2 separate regions of the Homo sapiens genome follow, and region 1 is linked to region 2. A link means that fine-mapping ties the variant in region 2 to the expression of a gene that starts in the linked region. Tissue or cell type: lung. Region 2 holds a variant in brackets; the other region holds the start of a gene. All regions are shown on one strand. Distances are from middle to middle.

Region 1 (2,761 bases), 53 kb after region 2:
ACGATATCATGATTCATGTGAGGGATTTTTAAAATAATGAAAATTTGAAAATGTCTGTAGCTCCAGGATAATGAAGCACAGGAGATATGAAAAACGAAAACATGGGAGAAGAAGAGATAATTCATAGGAAAAATAGCCTAGAGGAAGCAAGACAATAAGGGATCACAGGACTTGGGCAACAGCCAGGCAACATATGCCTTCACTGTGAGGTGAATTCTCATTAGCCTCACTTGTAATGACTTCATAGAACTGGAGTTAAGGATTTCACGTAAAAGAGAAAGATCCCTGGGCATCATCTTTTCAGGTCGTTTATTCTTAGTCATACAGCGTTCCAACGGAGAGGATGCACTCTAATTCTCCATAGAGAATTCTCTACCATATTAGCTCATACCCTCCTGTGCAAAACTAAACAGGAGTACTGAAAACAGCTAGTGTATGTTATGTGGGATGATCGCCTTCTTCATGAGTTAAATAGAAACTTGCAAAGAAAAGAGACAATTTCTAAGAAACTCTAAATATGGGGGTGTGGTGGGGTGGGGGCAGGTGTATGTTGCTCTCTTCCTTAAAAAAAAAAAAAAAAAGAAGGAGAAGAAGAAGAAGGAAAAAGCCCCTGGGAACTTGGGGAACAAGATGAAGATCAGGAAATCAAGGCATTTGTCCCAGCGTCACCCTTCCTACCTACTAATTCTGCATGCGTTGCTTTTATTGTCAGCTCTGGCCTCAGCTGCTTCGTAGTTGCACCGTAGTTCTTCTCAGAACTGAACCTATTTCTTTTTTTCTCATCCCCAAAGTGGCTGGTTTCTGGGCTTTGTTTGCTCTTGTTTCTTCATCACCGAGAAATACAGAAATATGAAAGCGCCTCACGGTGCCCAGAGTGACAAAAGGACACCCACACAAGTTTACCAGGACTCCTAAAAGTCCTTGCCTGAGGACTGTCCCCTAGCAACTACCCAGAGCTCGACGAAGCAAAGCCGGGAGCGCAAGCCCTGACAGCACCGCCAAGCCCCTAGCTCGGAGCAACAGCCTCCACCGCTTCTCCTCGCTAAACCTAGAGAACCCTGAGGACTCCCCACTGGGGCTGAGCCCCTCCCGCCCTCAACAGAACCTCTAAACACAAGTAGCCTTTCCCTGCCTCCAGGAGCTCACGAAACGCTGCCACACCGAGCGAATGCAACGCGTACACACGTCCACACTCGAACAGCACAAGCAAGAGACCGGCTGGGTGTGGAATAGAGGCGCACATCGCGCAACGCATTCACAGCATGCACACGCGCGCACCCCGACCCCGTCCCTCCCCGCGCGCCCTCACACCCCGGCGCCCAAGACCCCCGGCCCACGAACCTCACCAGACAGCCGGGTAACTTTCCAGGTGCGCAGCTTGTCACCTCGGCGCGGCCGCCCCTGCGTCTCAGCGTCCTCTCCCACGCCGCCCTCCCCAGCCGCCTGCGGCGCCGGAGCCCAGCGCAGGTCAGCTCAGCCAGCCCCGCCGTGCACACGGTGCGCAGCGTGGGCCCGGGGCTGCCGGCTCAGTCGCTCCGGCTACGTGTGAGCCGGGGGCGCGGGTTAGCGCGATGCGGGCAGGAGCTGCGGCGGCGTCGGTGCTGCCGCCTGGCTCCGCGGCGGGGGCCGGTGCAGAGGAGACACGCAGGGAGGGAGGGAAGAGAGGAGGGAAGGAGGAGGGAGGGGGTCAGCCGGGGCTACTGCCTGGATAGTTGGGCGCCGGCTTCCCTAAAGGTGGGGTCACCCGCGCCCGCACGCACACTAGCCCGAACCTTTACTCCCGACACAGCCGCAGTCTGCACTTTATACCCCATACCCTCCATAGTGAGGCAACTTAAGTAGGGCGATAACATCGTGGTTGTAAGCATTTTTGTTCATGTTATTATTTCTATTTCAAGTGTGTGGGACGAGGGGAGAGGAAAGTTCAGGGAGGTGTTCATTTTTTCCTTCCCCTCCCTTTCCTCCATCCTTCCAGTCTGTTTTCACTGCAGGCTCTCTCCACTTCGCCTTCCCTCCCAGAGCTCAAACAGGCGCACGTACCCTGGACATGCCCTCCTCTGTCACACCAATGCCTTTCTACGAAGACATGTGACCCCGAAGCAGCTCGTCGACGCGCCCCTCCCGGACTCTGGGGCCATAACTTACATCTAGTTTGCCAGTTCACGTGATGCTGGGGGCAGGGGTTGAATCGAGTTTCGAGGGACAGAGATTATACCTTCCGAATCTGCAGGTCTTTGGGAAGGGAGCTTTCTTGATCACCCAAGAAGATAATGCTCTCTCGTCACCTTTTGAGTACATTTTTTTTTCCTGAAGGGTGCAATATGGTTTCCTAAATATATATGTACACCCCACCGCATTATTTGCTGTGCTCTGGAGTTGTGAGATCTCCATGTGGCTTTTTCCCTTTCCTTCTGCCCCCAGAGGAATTTCACCAGCAAATTCACGGAGGACAAGGGCAGTTTCTGTGTTGAGAGATGGAAAGTATAGTGAGGGTCTATTCCTCACTGTGCATCTAGAGAATGTTACAACCAACTCTCTTGGGTTTTTAAACCACATGGTGGCAGTGGGGCTCATGTAACATTTGTATACACTGTTACATACATAAACTTATATTAAAAATGAGGCCCATGTAAAATATGTTGAATGAGACCATTAAGTTTCAGAGGAGGAGGAATATAGTCCTGTTTGTTTTTGTGCTAACTGGAGGAAAATCGCGAAAGTACACAAAGTACCTTTTCATGAAGCTATCCCAGAGTCTGTA
Region 2 (2,761 bases):
AAATTTTTATGTGTAAATTCTATTATTTAATTTAGATCTATCCTCATGAAATCTTAAATTATTGCATATTTCTTTTTATTTATTAACATCTGTTTCTCTTGTAAATATTTATGTGATTAGAAAATTCTTGAGGAGGGAAAAGTAATCTATCCACCTGTCAGACCAAAAGAGCGACTAAATATCTCAGAAAACAAAGGATAGATTAAACTGTCCACCTCTACTTTGCTTTAATTTGATCTTGTCTTAAAGTCACAGAACTAAGATGGATCTCTTAATTATTTATACAAACAAAAGTGGCTTCTTTAATTTTTAAAAAGGCATAACTAACCACATAATTGCTCTCTCTTGTTTTTCTTTTAGACTTGAAAATAAATTCCAAACTAAACTACTTTTTTATCTGTTGTTTTTCAATACTTTCTTGATCATTTATTCTTAAAACCTATTTACTTTTCTGGAATAAATGTTACTCCTAATACTAACAAACATGCGTTTTATTTTCATAACACTATGTACATTTTATAAGATATGTCAATATCTCATGGAAGGAAGCATAATATTTTTGGAGTTAAAAAGTTCTTTGAAGCCAGACAGGTCTATATTCAAATCCCAGTTTACAAGAAATTTACTTTCCTCAACCCATAAAATTAAAGTAACAACCCATATCTTCAAAGATTTAGGAAAGCGCATTAGTTCTCTATTGCTGCTGTAACAACCAAAAACTTGGTGGCTTAGAGCCACATCCTTTTATTATTTACAGTTTCCGTGAGTCAGAAAGCCTAGGCACAGTGTTGCTCAATTAGGTTTCTCAGTTAGGGTCTCTCAGGATGGAGCTCAAGGTATCAATAGGGCTTATGTCATTCTGGAAGCTCAGGGGAAAATTCATTTTCAAGGTCATTCAGGTTGCTGGAAGGATTCACCTGCAGGATAAGATCCCATTTCCTTACTGACTGACAGTGGGAACTGCTCATGAGGTCTCTCCCATCCCTGCAGAGAGCCCCCTCCATCTCAGAACCAGTGATGGCATGTTCATTTCTTACCCTCAGAGTCTCTCTGGATTTCACTTCTGCTGCATCTCTCTGACCCCAACCAGAAATAATTCTATGCTCATGCAACTATATTCAATAGTTCATTCACCTAGCCAATTAATGATAATCTATTTTAAAGTCCCAAACTTTAAGCATACCATTAAAGTCCCTTTTGCCATGTAATATAACATATTCATACATTCCAGGGATTAGAATCTGGATATCTGGAAGGGGGGGTGGGGCAGGGGACCATTCTGCCTACCACAATAAGCCAATGAAAGGCAATGTTGCCTGAAATAGTAGGAGCATCTAAAATATAGTAAATGCACAATTAATTGTTGCCATGCTAAGAAGGAGGATGATAATGATTTGCTCAGCTGTTTCCTACATCTTCTGGACCTCTGTTTCATTTTCTGTAAAATTAAGATTATATTTACTACTACACCTAATGTTGTTTGAGGACTAGTTAAGACGGTGTATCTAAAGTACCTGATGGAATGTTTAGTGCACACCAGGTACCCGGTGACTGTTAATCTTACGAAAGAGGCTGTAAGCTGGTCACGAAAGTCTTCCAGAGGAATATATGA[T/C]TGTCCAGGTAAGTTACACTTGCCAGCCTTCCTGCTGTTAGCTATGGCCATGTGATGAACTTTTATCTAAAATAATCTGAGTGGAAGTGATCTGTGACAATTCCACACCAAGCCCATGCATGCTTTCATGCATGTGTCTTTATACTTTTTCCCCAATTATAATGGCATGGCCCACACAAACCTGGAAAACCACATGTTGAAAATGGCAGAGTAGACATCAGCTTGGATTCCCAAATGACTGTGTGGAGCCAATTGGGACTATCTTTCCTGGACAGTTATGTTAACGAGTGACAAACTTCTGTTTTATTTAAGCAATGATATTTGGCGTGTCTTTGCCTCATAGTTTGCTTACTCAAACCCTTCATCCCTTCCCAATTTTAGCTTTATCACAAACCTTGACTATATGCAGTGTGATTTTGCAGTGGAGATGACTATGACCCTTATAGGATGATCCTGATCCCCCACACAGTCCAGCTGTCTTCACCACATAGCTAACATTCAATGTTCTTTGCTATAGCTGCGGGGATTGTGTTCGAAGTTCCTATTTCAGACAGTCTGCTCTTCAAGCTCTCCTGTTCCCATCACAATTTCAGTCCTCATTACCCACATGGAGCAGAAGAAACACAGAGAATTTCTGAAGTGCTGTTAGGCTGTTCTTCAGTTATTATGAAGCCTTTGATGTGTGCAGAGGTGTGGCTTTAATTCCTAACAACCGAATAACTTCAAAGGGGGAAAAGCTTGAAAGGGGATACTGAGGAAGACCTTTGTTATTTTTTAAGGGACAACCTTCCTAGTGGTATTTTTCTCCACGGATGATTCTTTGTCACCCAAAACCATGGGAGGAAGATAAATAATACCTCCCAGTGTGTTGACAGTAACTTCATAGATCAGAAAAGGCTGTGGAAATAGGTCAGACCAAAAATATATAGTGGTAAGTACTGACTGTGATGCTAGACTGCCCAGTGTTTGCCAACTGGGGAGTGCAACCAGTCAAGCCAGGGTGGTCACTGAGACCAAAAAGAGAAATGCAAATAGTGTGGTTATTGTCCTTGTGGTTACATTGCAAAGGTGTCCCTTAGAGGACCAAGAAGCCATAGACCCTATCCTGCAGAGCAATGGTTTTCAAGCATGTTTTAATTCTGACCAACA

Direction of the effects. Alleles are on the strand shown, and positions count from the first base shown. SD is a standard deviation of normalised expression in the study named.
As copies of C replace T in region 2, the expression in lung of the gene that starts at base 1,633 in region 1 goes down (small effect, 0.31 SD a copy in GTEx).

Evidence for each region. PIP is the estimated chance that this variant, and not a neighbour inherited with it, causes the effect.
Region 1: PRKG2 starts here. The variant in region 2 is fine-mapped to the expression of PRKG2 in lung (GTEx, PIP above 0.99).

The regions. Positions count from the first base shown.
Region 1 is chr4:81,213,590-81,216,350 of GRCh38, forward strand. It overlaps PRKG2 (protein kinase cGMP-dependent 2), which reads right to left and starts at 1,633. Exons shown (of 19, transcript NM_006259.3): 1 at 1,347-1,633. It overlaps LOC124900726 (a long non-coding RNA gene), which reads left to right and starts at 1,297. Exons shown (of 2, transcript XR_007058162.1): 1 at 1,297-1,369; 2 at 1,976-2,635. RefSeq lists enhancers at 665-1,165, 1,166-1,666.
Region 2 is chr4:81,160,679-81,163,439 of GRCh38, forward strand. All of the region lies in intron 6 of PRKG2 (protein kinase cGMP-dependent 2), which reads right to left. Among named protein-coding and RNA genes, the nearest start is that of PRKG2-AS1, 2.9 kb to the right of the region's middle. The variant T/C (reference allele first, on the strand shown) is at 1,613.